Linked DNA regions of Homo sapiens. The protein of the gene in region 5 purifies or fractionates together with the protein of the main gene of each other region. This does not show direct contact. Each region holds a gene or a part of one and is shown on either strand. Other genes may lie near its edges.

What was found.
Region 1: the proteins of RBMS1 (region 5) and SUGP1 fractionate together in Homo sapiens (co-fractionation; one large-scale study listed by BioGRID). This does not show direct contact.
Region 2: the proteins of RBMS1 (region 5) and RIDA fractionate together in Homo sapiens (co-fractionation; one large-scale study listed by BioGRID). This does not show direct contact.
Region 3: the proteins of RBMS1 (region 5) and ZC3H11A fractionate together in Homo sapiens (co-fractionation; one large-scale study listed by BioGRID). This does not show direct contact.
Region 4: the proteins of RBMS1 (region 5) and SNX3 fractionate together in Homo sapiens (co-fractionation; one large-scale study listed by BioGRID). This does not show direct contact.
Region 6: the proteins of RBMS1 (region 5) and MRRF fractionate together in Homo sapiens (co-fractionation; one large-scale study listed by BioGRID). This does not show direct contact.
Region 7: the proteins of RBMS1 (region 5) and NBEAL2 purify together in Homo sapiens (tandem affinity purification; one large-scale study listed by IntAct). This does not show direct contact.

Annotation. Positions count from the first base shown.
Region 1 is NC_000019.10:19,307,010-19,310,509, forward strand, and holds part of SUGP1 (SURP and G-patch domain-containing protein 1), read right to left. Parts: intron 3,192-3,500; coding exon 3,088-3,191; intron 1-3,087.
Region 2 is NC_000008.11:98,101,844-98,104,507, forward strand, and holds the end of RIDA (2-iminobutanoate/2-iminopropanoate deaminase), read right to left. Parts: coding exon 2,646-2,664; intron 1,062-2,645; coding exon 999-1,061; 3' UTR 501-998; downstream 1-500. UniProt on the Homo sapiens protein: Catalyzes the hydrolytic deamination of enamine/imine intermediates that form during the course of normal metabolism. May facilitate the release of ammonia from these potentially toxic reactive metabolites, reducing their impact on cellular components.
Region 3 is NC_000001.11:203,844,123-203,847,622, reverse strand, and holds part of ZC3H11A (zinc finger CCCH domain-containing protein 11A), read right to left. Parts: intron 440-3,500; coding exon 1-439. UniProt on the Homo sapiens protein: Through its association with TREX complex components, may participate in the export and post-transcriptional coordination of selected mRNA transcripts, including those required to maintain the metabolic processes in embryonic cells.
Region 4 is NC_000006.12:108,223,041-108,226,540, forward strand, and holds part of SNX3 (sorting nexin-3), read right to left. Parts: intron 6-3,500; coding exon 1-5. UniProt on the Homo sapiens protein: Phosphoinositide-binding protein required for multivesicular body formation. Specifically binds phosphatidylinositol 3-phosphate (PtdIns(P3)).
Region 5 is NC_000002.12:160,483,808-160,487,307, reverse strand, and holds part of RBMS1 (RNA-binding motif, single-stranded-interacting protein 1), read left to right. Parts: intron 1-3,500.
Region 6 is NC_000009.12:122,323,882-122,327,381, forward strand, and holds part of MRRF (ribosome-recycling factor, mitochondrial isoform 1 precursor), read left to right. Parts: 3' UTR 1-3,500. UniProt on the Homo sapiens protein: Responsible for the disassembly of ribosomes from messenger RNA at the termination of mitochondrial protein biosynthesis. Acts in collaboration with GFM2. Promotes mitochondrial ribosome recycling by dissolution of intersubunit contacts.
Region 7 is NC_000003.12:46,996,666-47,000,165, reverse strand, and holds part of NBEAL2 (neurobeachin-like protein 2), read right to left. Parts: intron 3,416-3,500; coding exon 3,333-3,415; intron 3,213-3,332; coding exon 3,120-3,212; intron 2,908-3,119; coding exon 2,733-2,907; intron 2,606-2,732; coding exon 2,472-2,605; intron 2,100-2,471; coding exon 1,940-2,099; intron 1,704-1,939; coding exon 1,601-1,703; intron 1,450-1,600; coding exon 1,287-1,449; intron 1,208-1,286; coding exon 1,049-1,207; intron 897-1,048; exon of another isoform or gene 867-896; coding exon of another isoform or gene 852-866; coding exon 692-851; intron 537-691; coding exon 451-536; intron 278-450; coding exon 1-277. UniProt on the Homo sapiens protein: Probably involved in thrombopoiesis. Plays a role in the development or secretion of alpha-granules, that contain several growth factors important for platelet biogenesis.

The DNA.
Region 1 (3,500 bases), on a different chromosome or scaffold from region 5:
GATCATGAAAGATGCTGGCTCTGCACTTGGGGACCTCATCTTTTTTTTTTTAGTGACAGGGTCTTGCTCTATCACCCAGGCTGAAGTGCAGTGGTGCAATCATGGTTCACTGCAGCCTCTACCTCCTGAACTCCTGGGCTCAAGCAATCCTCCCAGCTCAGCCTCCAGAGTAGCTGGGACTACAGGTGCACGACACCATGTCTGGCTAATTTTATTTTTATTTTTTGCAGAGATGGGTTCTTGCTAGGCTGTCCAGGCTGGTCTCACACTCTTAGATTCAAGCGATCCTCCCAGCTCAGCCTCTCAAAGGGATTACAGACATGAGCCACCATGCCTGGCAGGGGCTTCATCTTTTTAAGCCTTAGCTTCCTAAATGGAAAGTGTGGAAATGGAGGTAACCAGCTGCTTACAGAACTCAATGAGATTTAGTTGGACCATCTAGACCTAAAAAAAATAACGTCGAGTAAGAGAAAAAAGCTTGGAACAAAACGCACACTATGTCGTCATCTGCATAAAGGGTCAAACATCTGAAACTACGGCACACACTGCTTGACTGAGAGGACAACAGGGGTTGTCAGACACACAATTTCTCGACAGTTACTTCCTGTAAGAAAGGGGGATGGGAGGACTTCAACCTCTGGTATTTTTCTTTTTTTTTTTTCTTTTTGAGACTTAGTCTCGCTCTGTTGCCCAGGCTGGAGTGCAGTGGCGTGAGCTCAGCTCACGTGAGCAGAGCTGGTTGCCTCCCAGGTTCGTGCAATCCTCCCACCTCAGCCTCCCAAGTAGCTGGGATTATAGGGGTGTGCCACCATGCCCAGCTAATTTTTGTATTTTTAGTAGAGACGGGGTTTTACCACATTGGCCAGGCTGGTCTCGAACTCCTGACTTGAGGAGGTCCACCCGCCTCGGCCTCCCAAAGTGCTGGAATTACAGGCGTGAGCCACTGTGCCCAGTGAGTATTTTTCATGATTAACAAAGATCAGAAGTATCAAAGGCAAAATGTTACATCTATGAATTCTTTTTTGTTTTCTTTTTTTGAGATGGAGTCTTGCTCTGTCTCCTAGGCTAGAGTACAGTGACGTGATCTCCACTCACTGCTACCTCCGCCTCCCAGGCCCAAAAGTGATCCACCCATCTCAGCCCCCCCATTAGTTGGGGTTAAAGTTATGCATCACCATGCCTGGCTAATTATTTGTATTTTTTTTGTAGAGAGGAGACTTAGCCATGTTGCCCAGGCTGGTCTTGAATTCCCGAGCTCAAGCGATCCTGTCCCCTTCGGCCTCCCAAAGTGCTGAGATTACAGGCATAAGCCACCGCACCCAGCCGACATCTATGAATTCTGAGTGAAGAGAATACGACGTGTGTTATCAGACGTCTACCAAAGGGAAACAGAGGTAGAGAGAGGTGTCCCTCCAGAGGATTCAGTGAGAGCACAGACGTGGTCTGCTTGCACGGAGCAAGGGACATGGCAGGCACTGAGTCCACATTCCCTGGCACACGGGGTGGTACCCGATGAACACTAGTGCCCTGGTGGTCATTGTTGGGTGCCCCCAGCTGCGTGCCCACCCGGCACCTCAGCCGCAGCAGGCCCCAGAACCTATTGTTCTCTGATGCAGCTCAGGTGTCTCGGGCCAGCCCGGTGTCTCTGAAAACCCTGTATGCAGAAGACCTGCTCACCCCTGCTGGTGGGTTCAAGCTGACCCAGCTTGGGGATGCCTCCCATCTCCCAAAGTGGTCTCACAAGTGTGGGGAAGGCTTCATCATGGCTCCACCTGCCCCAGACTGAAATCTGACTTATCTGTCTCTGCTCCTACAGGGTAAGCACATTGAGTGCAGGGTCTACATTTGCCCCCTTGGTAATTTTTTTTTTTTTTGAGACGAAGTCTCGCTCTTGTCCCCCAGGCTGGAGTGCAATGGCATGATCTTGGCTCACCTCAACCTCCACCTCCTGGGTTCAACCGATTCCCCTGCCTCAGCCTCCCGAGTAGCTGGGATTACAGGCGCCTGCCACCACGCCCGGCTAATTTTTGTATTTTTAGTAGAGACAGGGTTTCACCATGTTGGTCAGGCTGATCTCGAACTCCTGACCTCAGGTGATCCGCCTGTCTCGGCCTCCCAAAGTGCTGGGATTACAGGCGTGAGCCACTGCGCCCAGCCTGCCCCCTTGGTATTAATTTACATATTTATTACTTGGGCTGGGTACAGTGGCTCCTGCCTGTAATGTCAACACTTTGGAAGGCTGAGACAGGTGGATTGCTTGAGCTTAGGAGTCCAAGACCAGCGTGACCAACATGGCGAAATCACAACTCTACAAAAAATAAAAAAATTAGCCAGGTGTGGTGGCATGCCCCTGTAGCCCCAGCTACAGGGAGGCTGAGGTGGAAGGTTTGCTTGAGCCCCGGAGGTTGAGGCTGCAGTGTGCTATGATTGCACTACTGCATTCTAGCCTGAGCAAGAGTGAGGCCCTCTCAAAAAAACAAAAATTACTGGCCGGGCGGAGTGGCTCACGCCTATTACCCCAGCACTTTGGATGGCCAAGGCGGGCAGATCACGAGGTCAGGAGATCAAGATCATCCTGGTAACACAATGAAACCCAGTCCCTACTAAAAAGATACAAAAGGCCGGGCACAGTGGCTCACGCCTGTAATCCCAGCACTTTGGGAGGCTGAGGTGGGCGGATCACAAGGTCAGGAGATCGAGACCATCCTGGATAACATGATGAAACCCCATCTCTACTAAAAATATTTAAAAAATTAGCCGGGCGTGGTGGCGGGCGTCTGTAGTCCCAGGTACTCAGGAGGCTGAGGCAGGAGAATGGGGTGAACCCGGGAGGCGGAGCTTGCAGTGAGCCGAGATCGCGCCACCGCACTCCAGCCTGGGCCACAGAGCGAGACTCCGTCTCAAAAAAAAAATTATTTATGTATTATTTATTTATTTATGCCTTTGGTGCACGCATGGGTGGAATGAGGGCGATCTATGATTACCGGTGAGCAGGAGTCTGAGGTGGGACCCATCACTTCCCATGTGCCCAGCAACCCCAGGGGGAGATGCAAGGACAGCACAAGGAAAGGGGAGGCCTACACTCACCTGTGCTGGTCTGTGCCTTCTGCAACTTCAGAAACTGCTGCAAGAAGCTACCATCGTTGGCAAACTTGTTGGAAATGCAGGAAGAGTTGTGTGCATTTGTGATTCTAGAACCAAGACAGAGGACAGAGAGGGTGAGCTGGCTAGAGATGGAGTGAGGGCACCAGAGGACGAGGATGAGGATGAGGCCATCACCTCGTCCATCATGGCCCCTAACTCACCCCAGCACTCTCACCTACTGGGACCCCAAACTGGCCCCCAGAGATTTCAAGAGACTACTGCGAAGTGCGCACAGCAGGCTTCAGTACGGTAAGCTGGGAACAATCTTGTTCTGATAAAAGCAATACTCCATGTATTATCTCTGCCTGAATATTAACCCTCCAGGTCCAAATGGCCCTCCAACAAGATGGCTCCTG
Region 2 (2,664 bases), on a different chromosome or scaffold from region 5:
TAATAGCTGGCCATAACTGTTGAAAAAAATAAACTGTATAAAAGTGTATGAAGTCAGCTGGGCACGGTGGCTCACAGCTGTAATCCCAGCACTTTGGGAGGCCAAGGCAGGCGGATCATGAGGTCAGGAGATCGAGACCGTCCTGGCTAACTCGGTGAAACGCTGTCTCTACTAAAAATATAAAAAAAAAATTAGCCGGGAGTGGTGGCGGGCGCCTGTAGTCCCAGCTACTCAGGAGGTTGAGGCAGGAGAATGGTGTGAACCCGGGAGGCGGAGCGTGCAGTGAGCCGAGATCGCGCCACTGCACTCCAGCCTGGGAGACACAGCGAGACTCTGTCTCAAAAATAAAAAACAAAAACAAAAACAAAAAAAAGTGTATGAAGTCAGAAGTAGGCTTTGAAAAATGAAATAGTTGGAGATTTTAACTTTACCTGCCCCCACTAGGCAATACGTTTTAATGTATAAACTGTTAAGAAATAAGTGAACAAAATCACACCAAAGGAAATCTGCCTATTTTATTTCCATTAGAAAAATATTATCTATATAACATTTTGTTCCACTATCTTCTCCTTGATCTCAAATTTAAACACTTTAATTTTACTCAAGTAAAAGCAGAATCACATAACGGACATCAAAACTAAATAGTTCACATCATTAGTTTAAATTAAATATGTTCTTGATTATTTCTCAGGAATAGTAACTCTTCTTTCCTACCTGGTATTTCTCTTTTGTTTACTGAGTAACTATGTAATGGGTATCTCTTTCCTATATTCAGTAATACAGGTGCACACAGGTGTAATTTAAAAAAGTAACTGGATTCCTTCTCTAATATTCATGTTCAACTCTCCCTATTACATGGTATTTCCATAATAGCTTCAGATATTTTCATCAAACTCACACTGTCATCAATTGTGAAAATTAAAAGGTTAATTAAGATGTTACATCAATTGTAAAAATTAAAATGTTAACAATTCCAGACTACACAGCACTGGGCCCACTTATAGTGATGCCGTTGTCAGTGGTCCTTGGATAGCTACTGCTTCAATTTCAATTCGGCTGCCCTGTGAGGAAAATGAAAGAATTTGTTGTAATCATTTTGTACAAATTGCAAACTCTATAATACCTACTAAAAACATGCAACCAACAGCAATATAACATTTTTAACATTAAACTTTTCAAGGAAGGAAAGGAGAAGGAAATATTCACCAAGAACCTATAACAGACCAGGTTACCATGCTAGGTATATTCATATACTATATTAGCTTATGTGATTCTCACAGAAGCCCTATTAGAGACGTATTTTCCCCTCAATTCACAGAATGATATGCTGAAGTGTAGAAGGAGTAATTAAGTCATCCCAAGTCACAAGCTAGATAGCAGAGGTTGAACCCTTGTCTTGTGATTCCAAGTTCAGAGCTCTTTCTACTACACCCAGTACCTTAATAGGTTTGATAATGATCATTCCAAGTAACAACTAATTAAAGCAATACAAATGACACTCTTAAAACATAAATTTTCTTTAGTAGAAACTGCAAGTGGAAGTCAGTAAGAGCTGCTTTTTTATAGGCAGGAATATTGTGCTGCTAAGCTTTGAGTTAAAAGTAGCAAAATCAAAATGGTGAGAAATATGTGTGCCCCTGGTTTAGAGATTATTTTTCTAGTGGAAGGCTTAGATTTTTAATTGTACAATATCCAGGTGAAATTTTTACTGCAGAACTCACAAACAAACCTGGCTCAAATTTATAGTCCCCTAAGTAACACTACAACAGTACAGCTGCTATTTTATTTTTTCTCACAATTTTTTTTTTTTTGTGATGGAGTCTCGCTCTGTCGCCCAGGCTGGAGTGCAGTGGCGCGATTTCGGCTCACTGCAAGCTCTGCCTCCTGGGTTCATGCCATTCTCCTGCCTCAGCCTCCCGAGTAGCTGGGACTACAGGCGTCCGCCACCACACCCGGCTAATTTTTTTTTGTATTTTTAGTAGAGACGGGTTTCACCATGTGAGCCAGGATGGTCTCGATCTTCTGACCTTGTGATCCGCCCGCCTCGGCCTCCGAAAGCGCTGGGATTACAGGCGTGAGCCACCGCGCCTGGCCTTTTCTCACAATTTAAGTATTTTGATTCTGATTCTATGTTCATGTGCTGTCTTAAAAGGTTTCTTAATTTTTTTTTCATGCATGTAATATGGGATATTTCCTTTCAGACTTTAAGTCCCTGGGGAAGCAGGGTCTATTTCTTTTCTTTTTTTTTTTTTTTTTAAGAGACAAGGTCACACTGTTACCCAGGCTGCAGCACAGTGGTTCGATTATAGCTCACTGCAGCCTTGAACTCCTGGGTTCAAGTGTTCCTCCCACCTCAGCCTACCAAGTAGCTGGGACTATAGGTGTGCACCACCACCATGCATGGCTAATTTTAAATTGTTTTTGTAGGGATGGCTGTCTTGCTATGTTGCCCAGGCTGGTCTAGAACTCCTGGCCTCAAGCGATCCTCCTGTGTTGGCCTCTCAAAGCACTGGGATTACAGGGGTAAGCCACCCTGCCCAGGCTACTTCTTTTAAGTTTCCTTTCACAGTGCTTAGTTTACTTATAGAAGGAAAACAATGTAGAAACTGAAAACTGTGTACATTAGTCATTTAAAGTGTACTTACTTTGGGTAAAGCAGCAACT
Region 3 (3,500 bases), on a different chromosome or scaffold from region 5:
CTGGTGCTGCTCTCAGAGCTCTGCTGCACCCTCAGTGCCTTCTCCAGTTTAATTTCTTCCAGCGTCTTGATGTGCACCTCCTGCATAGACTTTGTTTTACCTGCAGGCTCCTCTGATTGTCCTCTGCTGGCAACAATGGGTGGCAAAACTACTGTTTTTTTAATTTCACTATCAATCTTTAGCTTGATGCAAGTTGTATCCTTTTTGCTTTTTTGTCTCTCTGCTTCCTGCTGCCGATGTTTTTTTTCAGCCAGGACCTCAGAGAAGGTTTTGATACGGATAGTGGAGGAGCTTCTTGCTCCTGAAGTAGAATCATCAGTTTTTGAAGGTCCTTCTGTCTTGAGTTTAGTTTGCAATTCTCCACGTTTCTGACTGGCTCTTTCAAGAAGAATTTCTTCTAATGTCTTCACATGGATCTCACCAACTTTATTAACTTTATCTGTTTTCACAGGAGAAAAACATGTCATTATACTTGAAGTTCATCTCTTACTGACTTATGATCTCTCTATTCTTGGATCAAGACAGTCCAACAGAGAGCTATCATTTAAGCAGGCAATTAAAAGGATCAAAAGGGTAACATTTATTTCTTTTCCTTTTTTTCTTTTTCTTTTTTTTTTTAAGACAGAGTCTCACTCTGTTACCCAGGCTGGAGTGCAGTGGTATAATCTCAGCTCACTGCAACCTCTGCCTCCCAGGGTTCAAGTGATTCTCCTGCCTCAGCCTCCCAAGTAGCTGGGACTACAGGTACCCACCACCAAGCCCGGCTAATTGTTTCTATTTCAATTTTAGATTACTGCAAGTTCCAGGCAGTGGTCCTCAAGGAAAACTCTTTGGAGGCAAAAATTGATTTGTATTTCTATTCAGAAGCTTATTCTTCAGAAACTGAAAGCCATTTACTAGTTGGATAAATTTGTCATTATAAATCTTAACAAAAATAGCAATAAATTCTTCATTAACTTATGGCTATAAACATGTAATGAACACTGGGCTAGAAATACAATGGTAAGCAAAATAAAATCTCTGTCCACATGTAATTTACAGTCTAACAGATCAATAATTAAACTAGCTATAGCAGAGTATGGTAATGATAACTGCTTTGATAAGGTAGGTATAATGCTATAAAAGGACACAGCAGGAACACCTACACTTGTCTACAAGGAAATGATATTAAATTTAAAGGATAAAAAGAAGGTAAAACAGGTGACAAGATAGAAGAAAAATGCAGAAGGCCCAGAAATTGGCATGCCACTGAAGAGCTATTTTCAATGATACATTAATCGTTCTATATCTGTCTAAACTGAAGACCAAATGTCACACTTCACAGATAGAACCATTCTCATTACTGAAGGGCTAAGAAAATAAATAATGAAAAGAGATAGTGCTATGAAATAAATGATAATTTGGAGATCATACACATATATATGTAATCACTGAATAACAGCTTTTAATGAACCCCCCCCCCAAAAAAATTATATCTTTTCAAAATCTTTTTTTTTTTTTTTTTTTTGGTAAAGACGAGGTCTTGTTATGTGGCCCAGGCTGGTCTCCAAACTCCTGGCTTCAAGTGATCCTTCTGCCTCAGCCAATCAAAGTGCTGGGATTACAGGTGTGAGCCACCATACCCAGTCTGAAATCTTAAAATATACTGTGTTCTGTCTCACTTTCCAAACTCCTGAGTATACTATTCCCTCTACTTGGAGTATTCCGTGCTGTTCTCATTTCTCTTGCTACCTGTGTTTTTTGTTTGCTTGTTTTTTGAGACAGAGTTTTGCTCTGTTGCCCAGGCTGGAGTGTGCAGTGGTGTCATCTTGACTCACCGCAACCTACATCTCCTGGGTTCAAGTGATTCTCTGCCTCAGCCTCCCAAGTAGCTGGGCCTACAGGTGCCCACGACCACGCCTGGCTAATTTTTGTATTTTTTGTAGAGACAGGGTTTTGCCATGTTGGCCAGGCTGGTCTCAAAACTCCTGGTCTCAAGAGATTTACCTGCCTGGCCTCCCAAAGTGCTGGGATTACAGGCGTGAGCCACCACGCCAGGCCTGGTTAGTTTCAACTGAATTCAGCTTAAAACCTGATACCCTCCAATTTAGTTTTTCTGATCAAAGCACTGAACACTCAGTACACTGTAATTGCATCTTCAACCACACTAAAGACTTCATGAGAACAACGACTGTATTTAGGTACCTGTAATATTGCAAAGGAAGCACTCACTTACTGAATTAGTTCTTCAAGTTCTTTAATAAAAAATCACAAATTCTTTCAATCCAAGGTGGCAAACATTTCAAAATTACCACTCCAAGAAAGTACAACATGAATGGTGACATAGAGGCCCTGTTTCCCTCCCCTACCAAAATTTCATTGAAATGATAAAACATTAAAAATAAAATAAATCCACACCAGCAATGAGAAATAAGGATGTCACTGGCAGAGCATACATCTTGAAGAATTTCTAAAACAGAAAGCAGATGTCTGAATTTACAGAAAAATGGAAAAATAATAGTTAAAACCATAGGCGTGAGTTCTGTTCCTCCCAATACAGTCAAAGGAAACTGTCAAACTTGGGTTAACTAATATTAAAAGCAACGGTGGGATCTGACATAACCATTAGGGTAGAAATTTAAGGACTGCCTATAGAACAGTTGGGCCAGTCATGACCTCCTCCTGAGAACTGCTCCCTAAAAAGAGGCAAGTTTGCCCACGAAGAGCACATTATGAAGATGTTGGGGCTGGAGAGAAGTAGAGCATGAAAATCCCAAGCTTTCACAATACCAAGCAGAAAAAGGGGAGGGAGGAGGGATAAAAGTAAACAGCAAATCTGAAAAAGGAAAGAAGTTGTTTCCACTCAGAAAATAAAGTCTTACTGTGGCAATTGTATGAGCCCCCAGACCTCCCATCTTCAGTCCATACAAGCTGCCTGTTAGTACACCCTCTCCACTTAGCCAGACATAAATGGAGTCTCCCAGTCAGGAGAGAGGACAACTTGGGGAAAGGGTCTTTAAAATGAAAGGAAACCCAAGCCAGGTACTTACAACTATGGAAAAACAACAATATTTAAGATAAACCAAAATAAATAAAAAGAAGTGGTTAAGAAGCCAAAATAATACACAAACTTTTAAAAATAAAAATAAAGATTTGAATTAGAAATCCCAGAGCAGGCCAGGCGCAGTGACTCACACCTGTAATCCCAGCACTTTGGGAGGCCAAGGCAGGCAGATCACTTGAGGTGAGGCAGATCAGGAGTTGGAGACTAGCCTGGCCAACAGGGTGAAACCCCGTCTCTACTAAAAATACAAGTTAGCCAGGCGTGATTGCACATGCCTGTAATCCCATTTACTCGGGAGGCTGAGACAGGAGAATCGCTTTAACCTGGGAGGCAGAGGTTGCAGTGAGCTGAGATCACGCCACTGCACTCCAGCCTGGATGAGAGTGAGACTCTGTCTCAAACAAAAATAAAAATAAAAAATAAAGGCGGGCACAGTGGCTCACGCCTGTAATCCCAG
Region 4 (3,500 bases), on a different chromosome or scaffold from region 5:
TTTGTCTGAAACAAAAAAAGTTAGTCCTAAATTGAAGCACATTAAGGAAACTTCAAAAAAATGGGGGGACGGGTATGGCAAAACAAAAGAAATCATGACTTTCTTTTTCTTTTTTTGAGACAGAATCTCCCTTTGTTGCCTAGGCTGGAGTGCAATGGCACGATCTCGGCTCACTGCAAACTCCACCTCCCAGGTTCAAATGATTTTTCCGCCTCAGCCTCCCAAGTAGCTGGGATTACAGGCACCCACCATCATGCCCAGCTAATTTTTGTATTTTTGTAGAGATGGGGTTTTACCATGTTGCCCAGGCTGGTCTTGAACTCCTGACCTCAGGTGATCCGCCCGCCTCGGCCTCCCAAAGTGCTGGGATTACAGGCATGAGCCACGGCACCCGGCCGAAATCATGATGTTTTTAATATGACCTTTTACCCATAACAAAATAAAACTTTGCTAGTTCTTTTTTTTTTTTTTTTTTTTTTTTTTTTGAGACAGAATCTCACTGTCGCCCAGGCAGTGATGTGATCTTGGCTCACTGCAACCTCCACCTCCTAGGGTCAAGTGATTCTCCTGCCTCAGCCTCCCAAGTAGCTGGGATTACAGGCACTCGCCACCAGGCCTGGCTAATTTTCTTGTATTTTTAGTAGAGGCGGGGTTTCACCATGTTGGCCAGGCTGGTGGTCTCAAACTCCTGACCTCAAGTGATCTGCTGCCTCGGCCTCCCAAAATGCTACGCTTACAGGCCTGAGCCACTGCCTGGCCCACTAGTTCTTTAAAAGTATTTACACAAGAACACAACTTTTAAATGTACCTTTGCATGCATGCTTTTGGATGTCATTCTGCCTGAGGATATTTACATAAATGTAGGTCATTTTCTTATTATTTCAGTGAGCTTTAAAAATGTCAACTAAGCAGGGGTGAAAAAAGGCTAGCTCTTGACTATTCTCCAGCTTAGCTAGTACCTCAGCAAACAGTCCTCATAGGGGAAATATACCTTACCTTTTAATTTTTAAAATTTTATTTTCTTGGTGCTCATTCATCATAGCAAAACCCTAACCTATGTCTCAATGCCTATCACACTGCCCGTTGATGTAGAAGTTCTTTTTCTTCTCCCAGAGACAGGGTCTCACTCCATTGCCCAGGCTGGATTTAAACTCCTAGGCTCCAGCAATCCTCTCGCCTTGGCCTCCCGGGTAGCTGGGACTGCAGGGTCATACCACTGTGCTGGCTCACTTAACTACTTTTTTTGATTTATTTTTTTGAGGCAGAATCTCGCTCTGTCGCCCAGGCTGTAGTGCAGTGGCGTGATCTCGGCTCACTGAGATCTCCGCCGCCTGGGTTCACGCCATTCTCCTGCCTCAGCCTCCCAAGTAGCTGGGACTACAGATGCCCACCACCATGGCTCGCTAATTTTTTGTATTTTTAGTGGAGAGGGGGTTTCACCGTGTTAGCCAGGATGGTCTCCATCTCCTGACCGCGTGATCTGCCCACCTTAGCCTCCCAAAGTGCTGGGATTACAGGCGTGAGCCACCACACCTGGCCCACTTAGCTGCTTCTAAATGAAACCAAAATATTTTGTTATGAGGACTGGATTAGATCTTGCATAATAAAAGACCTAAATAAAACATTATTCTTAATGGCCTTCTAAAAAATGCCAAGAAAAGCAGGGAAAGTGCTGCATACAGTGTCTATGGGTCTTACCCCTAGTAGGAAATTAAATCGTACTCAGTAGACCAAGCTCATAAACCCAGAGCTTTAAAGGCGGAGGGCAAGTTTAAGAACTGAAAACATAACACCCAGTACTTTGAAGTTACACTGGAATGTAAGAAAATTTCTGGAGACTGTTCTTTTTAAGATTGCAAAGGCTACTTGTTGCCACTTCAGTCAACTTCTAAATTTAAAAAAAGTAACATGAAAGATTTCTATTATCTTTTACTGGATCCCCTTTAAAGAAAAAATATGCGGCAGGGCGCGGTGGCTCATGACTGTAATCCCAGCACTTTGAAAGGCTGAGGCGGGCGGATCACGAGGTCAGGAGATCGAGACCATCCTGGCTAACAGGTGAAACCTCGTTTCTACTAAAAATACAAAAAAACCAGCCAGACGTAGTGGCAGGCGCCTGCAGTTCCAGCTACTCAGGAGGCTGAGGCAGGAGAATGGCGTGAACTCAGGAGGCGGAGTTTGCAGTGAGCCGAGATCGCGCCACTGCACTCCAGCCTGGGCGACTGAGCGAGACTCCGTCTCCAAAAACAAAAACAACAACAAGAAAAAATATGCTAGGCCTGGCGTGGTGGCTCACGCCTGTAATCCCAGCTCTTTGGGAGGCCGAGGTGGGCCGATCACAAGGTCAGGAGTTCAAGACCAGCCTGGGCAAGAGACCAGCCTGGGCAGGAGATCAGCCTGGCTAATACGGTGAAACCCTGTCTCCACTAAAAATACAAAACTTAGCTGGGCATGGTGGCGGGCGCCTGCAATCCCAGCTACTTGGGAGGCTGAGGCAGGAGAACTGCTTGAACCCGGGAGGTGGAGGTGGCAGTGAGCCGAAGATCGCTCCACTGCACTCTAGCCTGAGCGACAGAGTGAGACTCTGACTCAAACAAAACAAAACAAAAAAAAGATGCTACCAAATCCAATAAAAAATGGTTTATGACTAAAAACACTAAAGACTATTAGGAGTGGTATGAGACCAGTATTTTATCATTAAGAATAGATTTTAGGCCAGGCATGGTGGCTCATGCCTGTAATCCTAGTGCTTTGGGAGGCTGAGATGGGAGGACTGCTTGAGGCCAAGAGTTACCAGCCTGGGAAACATAAGAAGATTCCATCTCTACAAAAAATAAAATAAATTTACTGGGTATGGTGGCATGTGCCTGTAGTCCTAACTACTTGGGAGGCTGAGGTGGGAGGATCTCTTGAGCCCAGGAGTCAGGAGTTCCAGACTGTAGTGAACTATGATTATGATTGCACCACTGCACTCCAGCATGGGCAACAAATGAGACCCTCTCTCTCAAAAAAAAAAAAAAAAAAAAAAAGGAGAAGAAAGATTTTATTTTATTTGAGAATTTTATTTGAGACAGGGTTTCACTCTGTAACCCAGGCTGGAGAGCAGAGGCATGATCATGGCAGGGTCAAGTCAAGTGATTTCTCCTACCTCAACCCCCTGTGTAGCTCAGACTATAGGCGCATGCCATCACATCTGGCTAATTTTTGTACTTTTGGTGAGACAGGGTTTCACCATGTTGCTCAGGCTGGTCTTGAACTCCTGAGTACACGCAATCCATCTGTATTGGACTCCCAAAGTGCTGGGATTACAGGCATGAGCCACCGTGCCCAGCCAAAAAGATTTTAAAATGTGCAAATTATCACAAAGTTTGTAGGAGACAGAAATGACTTAACATAATAACTAATGCCATACCCTACCAAAAATACTACTCAACACTATATATTCTCTTAGATTATATTCTGTCCGTTAATTCAGACTTTGAACTAATTAGCACAGAATT
Region 5 (3,500 bases):
AGGCACTAAGATATATGTAGGATTAAACACTTTGCCATGTCTTTTGCAAGAAAGTGAAAAGTGCTAATAAAAGCTACAATAAATCTGGGAATTTTAGAAAGACATAAGGCTTTAAATGAATAAATGAATTTTTTTACTTACCAGCATTGTTTTGCATTTTTTCTGCTGTATAAATTCTTTTAAGAGTACTTAGAATTTTAAACGAATAATTTTTTTGTACTTTATGTTAACTTCTCCTTAAAGTTTCATATTCAATTAATTTATTTCACCCTATTATTTTTCTAGTTTTATGCTTACAAATGTGCTGTTAAGCCAACCTATTAGAGGTGTGGCAGGTTGGAAATGTACTCCTTAAATGATGGCATAGTGGTTATACAGAAATATAACTTTGATTGTTTTGAGCCATTTGGAATGATGTTTATTTCTCCTAACTGATTAGCTTTGCTTCCGGCAAAGGGGAGGAAATAAGTTTGGGGTTTGTAATGCTGCTAATTAGATCATTGCTTGCCTGCAATCTACACATTTATAATGTGTCTAATGTGGGCTGGCATTTCTTCAGAAAATAAGATGTTAAAAAATTATTCCTGATCTTTAGTGGATATCTCTTTATCTGGTCATCAGCCAGCTTTAATTCTTTCAAAATAAGATATTCACCTCTGCAACTGGATCCAAGTGCTTCAGGAGTCCTGTTGTCCTCTACTTGGCCTCAATATGGGCCCTGGAATCCATTCCTCAGGCTGCCCATTGAACAACATGCGCTATGCAGTTGGGCTGCTGGGTCCCAGATAAACAGTGATTTCAGGGAAAGGTTTTGTGCAACAAAATGAGATCATTTCATAGATGTCATAAATATTTTCACTGGTCCTGAAGGAAAAATGCATCATCTTCCCAGACCCATTTCACACAATACTAGAGGTGTTTCTTCTACAAGTTGAAAAACTGAATACTTAGAATGGCAGAATTGGATGGATACATCATAGAATGCCATGCTCCGAACTTGAGTTTCTTGGACTGGGGGTGGGGGGTGGAGGACAGGGAATCAAATTGCGAAAACAGAATTTTATATTATGAGCTTACATTTATATTATCCTCAAATAATACTATACTATTTCCCCTGTTAAATACTTTTTAAACATGATGATTTTGAGTTGCAATTGGGAGTATATTTGAATTGGAGAACCCCTAAACCCTCCCTTACCAGTAGAATTACAATGAAATACTTTCACAGTTTATATAATAAGGTCTCAGATAAAATATTTAGTCATTAGGAAAAGTAAATTATATTGATATTTGTAATATCGTCAACTTTACCTTTGTCTTCTCAACAACAATTTCGTTTCATCATCCAACAGGTTTTTGACAAATGCAGACATTTATAAAAAGAAAAATTTGCCAGAAAAATGTATTTTCAAGTCACTAGCTGAAATACTCCCACGACTCTCTTTGCCTCCTACAAAGTACAGCTCTGATTAATTTCATTGTTTCTAAAATGACATTCTTTTAAAAAGGTGCCTAATCTCAGCCTCTTTTTAGGTTTCATTCCATATGATCATTTGTATACTTCTATTTAAAAAACAATAAACACAGAAAGAATTACCTATCAGAGAACTGGCTACTAGATGATGTTTTTCTCATGCTCTATGTGATTTGTTCAAAAATTGGGTATACCTTAACTTATAAGTGAGTTGCATTTCCAACAATTTTATTCCAAACAGTTCGCTTGTCATTTGGTTATTTAAAACTTGAAATTCATTTCATAAATAAATAGTTATCCTTAATGATATGGTCCCCAGCGAACCTGTAAGAGTCTGTAAAAGTAACCCACTTTATAATTCACGTATAGTTCTCTACTAACACTGCCATTGAACCAAATCACCACATCAGATGTTTCTTGGAGAGAGGGGTGAGTTTTCAGAGTTAGATTTCCAGGAACTCGTCTTTGCTTTCTTTGGGTGAGTGGGAAGACAGGGTTCTTCTACAATCTTTCAACAAGGCTTTGCCCTTTTATGGCAGGGGAGGGGTTTCAAGAAGATGGGAGGTGCAGCTTGTGAAGTCACAGGGATCAGGGAGTTTGTGCTGGAGCTTCCTCTGGGGGTCCCCTGAGAGCCCTCTTCACTTCTAGACCCACTCACCTGTTTTCTTGTGCTGGCCTCAGAGATAAACTCGTTCCCTTTTCCCCCTAATTAAAATAAAATCTTTTCCTTTTAAGAGCCGAGGGTTCCTAGTACTGCTTCTCATGCTGAGCTTACCACTACTAGATTACTACAGCCTCACAGCTTTTCTTTACTCTCCTTCAGCCCTGAATCAAGCAAACATCTCTTGAGGCTGGCAACCAGAAGGAAACAAAAAGACAAAGTAAAAATTCTGTCTATCTCTTCCAATTCTCTTTTTACCTTTTCCTGGTTCGTTGATGCTTCGTAAATTTTTTTTTTTTTTTGAGACGGAGTCTTGCTCTGTCGCCCAGGCTGGGGTGCAGTGGCACAATCTCAGCTTACTGCAAGCTCCGCCTCCCGGGTTCACGCCATTCTCCTGCCTCAGCCTCCTGAGTAGCTGGGACTACAGGCGCCCGCCACCATGCCCGGCTAATTTTTTGTATTTTCAGTAGAGGCGGGGTTTCACCATGTTAGCCAGGATGGTCTCGATCTCCTGACCTCGTGATCCGCCCGCCCCGGGCCTCCCAAAGTGCTGGGATTACAGGCGTGAGCCACCGCGCCCGGCCAATGCTTCGTAACTTTTTAGGGAATCCCCAGACCCTAGACCTCCTTGAGAATCCGATGATGGCGTACATTTTTTTGTTGTTGTTGTTGTTGTGACGGAGTCTCGCTCGCTCTGTCGCCCAGGCTGGAGTGCAGTGGCGCGATCTCGGCTCACTGCAAGCTCCGCCTCCCGGGTTCACGCCATTCTCCTGCCTCAGCATCCCGAGTAGCTGGGACTACAGGCGCCCGCCACCACGTCCGGCTAATTTTTTGGATTTTTAGTAGAGGCGGGGTTTCACCGTGTTAGCCAGGATGGTCTCGATCTGCTGACCTCGTAATCTGCCCGCCTCGGCCTCCCAAAGTGCTGGGATTACAGGCATGAGCCACCGCGCCGGCCTATGGCGTACATTTTTATTAGCCTCAAATGTTTACCTAGAATCAGCCTGTGGAGCACAGGTTAAGAATCTTACCCAGGGTGGGGAGCAGTGGCTATGCCTATAATTCCAACACTTTGGGAGGCCGATGGGGGAGGATTGCTTGAAGCCAAGAGTTCCAGACCAGCCTGGGCAACATAGTGAGACACCGTCTCTTAAAAAAAAAAAAAAAAAAGAATTTTATCCTGGAAGGAAGACAAATACTGAACAAATCTATGCTTAAGAGGATGAATCAGACAGACCAGAGATCCCTTCATGTTTTTTTTCTGGGTTGTAGCTCAACAGACTCTGTGATGAAGAGCTGCACAAAAGCCAGTGTCCTGCAGAGTGGGCTTGGGTGGCATGAGGTCCATACCCCTATCCAGCAAGG
Region 6 (3,500 bases), on a different chromosome or scaffold from region 5:
TTTCTTGTGCAGGGTTACACACCTAGCAAGTAGCAGAGCTGGCATTCAAATTGAGGCCTGATGTGCTAATGTAAAAGGAAAAAAACAAACTTTTTTTCCTTTTGTACTTTCACACTCAACATGGAACACTTCTGTGACAAGGTGTGTGAGTTTGTTTCCCCCACACACCAAGCAATTCTCCAGCAGACACCAACTGGGTATCCTATAATTCAATTCATTTCTGACATTACCTGGAAATAGTGTCAGATCCCACAGGTTGAGGGCTCCATCTCCCAAGACTGCCAACACTTTTGATGCCAGTCATGAGTCTGGGCCACCCATACTCCTGACTGACCAACTACAAACTAGAGTCCTTGATTTCCTTTGGTTCAGTTAATTTCCTAGGACAGCTCACACAACTCAGGGAAACACGTTCACTGGTTTATTATAAAAGATACAGCTGAACAGCCCAATGAAGGAGGTACACAGGGCAAGGTTGAGGGAGAGGGAGAGGGTGTGGAGCTTCCATGCCTTCTCTGGGCTCACACTCTCTCAGCACCTCACCAATCTGGAAGGAACCACTGTGTCCTGCTGCCTTCATTAGCATTTAGTGAGCACCAATTGTTTGTCAGGTGCTGAACTATGTACTGGCAATACAAAAATGGGAAAGATATGACCCCTGTTTTGGGGGGGTACATAGTGCACTGAACTAAATTGCTGTCTATAATAATCTATTGGGTGGAAAAGTAGGAAGTTCATTCCAGTTCTGCAAGGTGTCTGCTTTCAGAATGGAGCCCACTTTGGTGGTGGCAAGGCCTGGCTGAGTTCTTTCAAAGCAACATCCAACTTCTCTTTGCTCTTTGACTTCCTCCAGATTCTCTCCTGTGCTGGAGGTAATAAGGGTTGCACTTCCCTCTTTACTTACACTGGTGAAACATGCAGTGAGGATTCAAGGTCAAAATTGGGTCAAAGTTAAACTAACACAGTCTCCTGCCCCACTTACCTGTCCTCTAACCCCATCCACCAGCCCTAAGTGGTCATCACATGATCAGAAGTCAGCTGGGGGAAGAGCAGGGATAGATAGAGCAATTAAGGAGCCTCTTTTGGGGTAAGCCACATGACAGGGGCTTTGCAACAGTCTTTCATGAGTGGCCGAAATCCCCCACTCACTGCAAATGTGCTTCTCAAAGATGCAGGATTTTTTAATAAACAGAGGAAATGATAAATTATGTTGTAATTCCACTCCAAAGGCATTTGGTTCTTAACAGCCAAATCCTCTGTAGTCTTTAAATAAACAAAAACTTATTTGGTGAACAGACAGGGAGGAAAATGAAAGATTTTCTGTACTTGGGTTCCACATGTCAACAATTTCTCTCCTGTGTGTATGTTGGCCAAAGCTGTATCATGATAAATGAATAAAGGAAAACCTCGAGCCCAGGGCAGTCAGACAGCTCAGCAAATGGCTTTCAGATGATTACTCAATTTCAGTTGACATTTATCAAAGAGTTTCTCTGTGACTCTGTGTCAGGGCTGTAGTGGTGACAGGGACAAGAATGAGACTACCTGTTTGGATGTGCTGAGAATGAGTAATGCTGGAGCAATTCATTCTCCATCTCTTCTCTCCTACAGCCTCTCTCAAAAAGAAACACTGGGTATGGAAATTCTCACACTTGCCAGAAGAATTAACCACCTCTTCTATTCAGTTTAATGACTTTCAAAGTCCTATGAAATATTCAGGCCAGAGAGAATTTGAGAATTTTTTTCCTGTCTGGTGTGTGTGTGTGTGTGTGTGTGTGTGTGTGTGTGTGTGTGTGTGTGTGTGTGTTGGAAATTACAAAATAAGTTGGAATGCAGAAAGTTAAAAAAAAAATCTCACCAGGCCCTACTCCTTTAAAATTAGGTATATATCTTTCCAGACCTCCTTTCTCTGTGCATATATGTGTGTGTGTGTGTGTGTGTTCGTTTCATTTTGTTTTGCCTTTGAGACAGTGTCTCACTCTGTCGCCCATCATGCAGTGGCACAATCATAGCTCACTGCAGCCTTGAACTCTTTGGCTCATGCAATTCTCCCACCTCAGCCTCCTGAGTAGCTGGGACTGCAGCTATGCACCACCACACCTGGCTTTTTTTTTTTTGCTTTGTTTCCTAGGCTGGTCTCAAACACCTGGCCTCAAGCGGTCCTTCTGCCTCAGCCTCCCAAAGCGCTGGGATTACAAGTGTGAGCCACTCTGCCTGGCCATATATAATTTTTTTTTTTTTTTTTTTGCAATGGAGTCTTGCTCTGTCGCCCACGCTGGAGTGCATTGGCGCAATCTCGGCTCACTGCAACCTCTGCCTCCCTGGTTCAAGCAGTTTTCCCTGCTTCAGCCTCCTGAGTAGCTGGGATTACAGGCGCCCGCCACCACACCCAGCTAATTTTTTATTTTTTTTTAGTAGAGATGGGGTTTCACCATGTTGGCCAGGCTGGTCTTGAACTCCTGACTCAGGTGATCCACCTGTCTCAGCCTCCCAAATTGCTGGGATTACAGGCATGAACCACTGCGCCCGGCCATATAATTTTTTAGAAGGAGAGAGGGGAACTATTCATATTCTGATGTTTGCTTTTTTTTCTTACCCTGTAACAATCATGGTCATCTGTCCATGTGTGTACATAATAGATACAATTTATTATTTCATTGTGATACAGTATTCCATAATATGGGTCTACCATAACTTAATTCACTATTAGCCCATGACACTATTTAAAAATTATTTCACATGCATTGGAGAATGTTTAAAGATGATTTTTTTTTTTAAGAAAAAAGAAAGGCCCCTATTCTAAGATTATCTGATAAGGTCTGCTCTTTCTCCTTCAACCTCAGGCTAACATTTATTGAATGCCTACAGTCGGCCAGGTTCCATGCTAGACCCTTTACACGTGTTCCCACATTGAAACTTCTGATGAATCCTTGTTAATGTAGGTGTTATGATTATCTGTGTTTTTCTGTGAAAAAAACAGGTTCAGAAAGGATATTTAACTTGCCCAAGGTCACACAGGTAGTAAGTGCTAGAATGAAATTTCAAACCCACATCTGACCTTGAAGTAGGTCCTTAATCAGTGTGCTTTGGTTCCCAAGTCTTCGCTGAACACTTACTCAAAAGGGACCTCGCGCTGTTCTGGACCTGGACGGTGATGTGAGAGAAGCAGAAGTCTTGCTTTCATAAAACACATAGCAAGCTGTTCCTAATTAATGACTGCAAGTAAAATAGCATAGTACCTGGCACATTGTAAACACCAAAGAAATGGTAGCTCTTATGGAGACAGTAAAGATTACATATTAATCCCCCACCTGTTTGGCCAACTTCTCTAGAATATGTCAGAGAGCAAGCAAAATGTTCACCAAGCAGTGAATAATGATAATAATAACAACAATAACAGTATTGACAGATCAGTAACTAATATTTGCTTGGTGCTTTTTAGTTTTCAAACTGCTTCTACATTCTTTGTTGCATTGAAACCACTCAGTGAAACTTTGCGGTTA
Region 7 (3,500 bases), on a different chromosome or scaffold from region 5:
AGGGCGTGCAGAATGGGGAGAGAGCATGGTAAAAGCCATCAGGGTCAGGGCAGGGGGCCTCTGAGGGCAGGAAGACATCTGAAGGCTCAGCAGGTGACTCAGTGGGTGGCTTGGGTGGGGCTGGCTTGGGGGAGGTAGGTGACTCTGGGGAAGACGGAGGGGGGCTGCCGGCTGTGGCAGCCTCCAGGACATATAGCCGGGTCAGCACATCTTGCCAGCCAGCCTGTCGGGCCAGAAGCCGCACTACATCTGGCTGTCCGTAGATGAGGTGGAAAAGCTGCAGGCGAGAGCACAGCAAGTGAGGACGCATCCAACTGCCTGCTCCAGACCCTCATCCAGGGCCTTTGCAGAGGAGGGCTCCAGAGACCCCTCATGAGACAGGCAAGGTGGAAGGCCAGAGGGTAGAAGCCACCCTCCCCCTCCCCCAAAGCTTTTACCTCTCATGCTCACCTGGCGACAGATGTCTAGGCGAACGCTGAGGTCAGCCTGGAGGGACAGCTGTACCACAGCCAGCAGATCTGAGAGGTTCAGGCAATCTGGGGGGATGGGTTGGGGGGACCTGAGGGACTGACCAGACTAGAAAGGGCAGGGCCCAGCCCTGGCCCCTATGCCACTATCTTCCTTCTTCCGGCCTGCCTGCCCTGTTTTTCTGACATGTCACCCCCTCCACTTGGCCTTAACCAGGTTGTACCTGCCCCCAGGAACAGCTTGTAGAGGCCCTGGCAGAGCTGGGGGGAAACAGTCCCCTCAGGCAAGCAGGCAACCAGACCCTGGAGACCACACTCCCGCAGCCGGAGGCGCTGGCGGCTCCGCTCAGGTAGCCGCTCATTCTGCTGCAGTCTGCGCAGGATCTGTGTGGGGGTCATCGGAGGACTGTCATCATGTGGAAGGAGTTACTGTAGGAGGGGAAGTCACCGTGCAGGTGTGTGGCTCAAGAGGCCCTTGAAGGCAGCTTCATCCGCTGGCCCAAGGCCTGCTGTACCTCCCTGAACCCCAGGCAGGGGCCCCAGTGAATGGGATGCCAGGGGAGGGGGTGGGCTGGGTGTACCTTGCAGACTCGATCGGGCAGCAGGGGCAGTGACCCTGGCCGCACTAGCAGGGCCAGTAGCACTTCGAGGTTCCCTGGCTCCAACAGAAAGACAGCCAAGGACTCCTGCACCAGGGAACCGTGCAGCAGGGCCAGCAGCAGGTCCAGCGCACCCACCGCCTGGGGATGCAGGGTCTCACACTGTGTCGGGCCCCCACTCCCCTCACCCAAGCCTCCCGCTCCCCAACCTCCAGCCTACCTGACCGTCATCGCCTGTGGCCGCCAAAAAGCTCAGCATGGTCTGCGTGACCTGCACGTCATCTGCTGAGAGACTCCGCACCAGGAACTCCCTCGCCAGGCCCAGGAGGGAGGTCTGCACGGTGCGTAGGTCGTCAGCAGCCAGGGGGCGCTCCCGCTGCGGGCTGGCAGGTCAGTAGGCACACCCAGCCAGGTCCCAAAGAAAGGCGGGGAGAGAGGGTGGGCAGGTGAGTCAGGGAAGCGCACCGCCCAGTCCCCAAGGCCGGAGGCCACTGTGTCAGCCCCCCATGGCCCATCTGGCCCCACTGGCCTCACCTGTAGTGGGTGCGCAGAGCATCCAAGATAAACTGGACGCCGTACTTCTTCCGCAGCTTCTGTCTGTGCTCCCGAACTATGCTGGACATGTACTGGATGTGACCTGAGCGGGAATGAGCAGAGGGCTCAGGCCACTAGGCTGAGCTGGGCCCTTCAGATCCTCCAGGCCAGGGCCATGTGCCTGTCAGACTTCCAGGGCAGGGTCATAGTCCCCTCAGCCGCCCCATGGCATTCTGGATTCCTAACAGGTGAGTCCCTCAGATCCCCCAGAGCAGAGTTCTAACTTCTCAGTGCTCAGCTGCCCTATGGCCGGCCCCTTGCTCAGGTCCTCACACCTACCGAGGCGCACGGCGAAGTCACTGAGGGTCCAGAGGTGAAAGTTGAAGAGCAAATGCTGGTAGAGTAGGTACAGGAGGGGCCCGCTGCCCTCAGCTGCCACCTGCTCCATCAGCAGCTGGGCGGACATGAGCACGTTCATGTCCATGGCCCAGCTTGGGACCTGGGATAAGACAGGAGCTGGAGTGAGGGCTCAGGCTCTGCCTGTCTGCTGTCTGAGCTTTTCAGCTGCCACTCTTCCCTGCACAGCCATGACGGCCACAAACATGGCCACCAGCCTGCTCAGAACCCTTTGGGGGCTTCCTGCCGCCTCTGACACGCAAGCCTCCTGCCTGCTGTGCGGGTCCCTGCCCCGACCTGTGCTGGGCCTTTCCCCAGATCCTCCAGACCCAACCCTGCTCGGCCTTTCAGGCCCCACTCAAGTGGCAACTCTCCCAGGAGGTTCTTCATGACTGACAGGGTTCCCCACTCAGTCCCCTCGGTCAGACAGGCTGACCATACCCCTAACCCCCATGCCTGTCCCACCGGGCCCCACCTTTCGCAGGAGGGCCCCGATGATGGCAGGCCCCTGGCACTGCACCAGGCTCTCTTGGTTCACCATGTGACCCTGAAGGAAGTTCCGCAGCATCAGCAGAAAAGCAGCCACTGCGTTCCTCTCCATCCGTTCCTCTGCCAGCCATCAGGAAGGGGACAGATGTGTGTCAAGGGCCTGCCAGTGGCCAGGAGACCTTGGGCATTCCACCCCCCTACCATGCCAAGATTCCCTCTCCACAACATAGGCACCAGGAACACTTACCTGAAGATTTACCCAATGGGAGAACCAGGCCCTGGGTGTTGTGACCAGAGGTCAGTTCAGGACCCACGAGGTCATGCGTTTCAGCTGGACCTGCTTCAGCCTCTTTGGGCTGTGCAGCTACTCGCTCCAGCAGGGGCAGCAGGGCACCCATACCCCCAACGCAGTTCACCACATCCTGGGGGAAGGAGGATGGCAGTGAGGGGGACCTTCCAGCCAGTTTCCTGCCCTACTCCACCCCAGCAGACCACCCAGAAAGGAAGTTTTGCTCTCTTGAGCTGGACTGTCCAAATCCTCCCCAGGCACAGCGCTGCTCCCCAGCTGACTCCGAACACACATGTGCCCCATATTCATGCCTCCTGCACACACCACCCACACGTGCTCACAGACCTTCACATCCCAGGTCTCCACTCTGTGGCCCGTCAGGCGCCCATCAAGCCCATGACTGGGGGACAGGTCCAGGCAGATGTTGTTCTTACAAGCCTAGGGATAGGGGAATGGGCAGGCAGCCAGGGTCAGAGGGAGGAGGGGGTGGCAGGCAGAGTGTGGGAGCCGGGGAAGTAGCACAGTCGAGCCAACCACTCCCCTGGGGCCCCCAAATACCTGAGGTGAGTAATGGAGGAGCAGCCTGGTGCTGAGCTCATGCAGCTCCCCCTCAGGCTTGAAGGGTGCCGTCTCATTGGGCCCTGGGAGGTGGGCAGGGGGCTTCAGACCTTGCTAGGCCTCTGGCCAAACCCCATCCAGAGACTGCCTGACCACAGGAGAGACCCC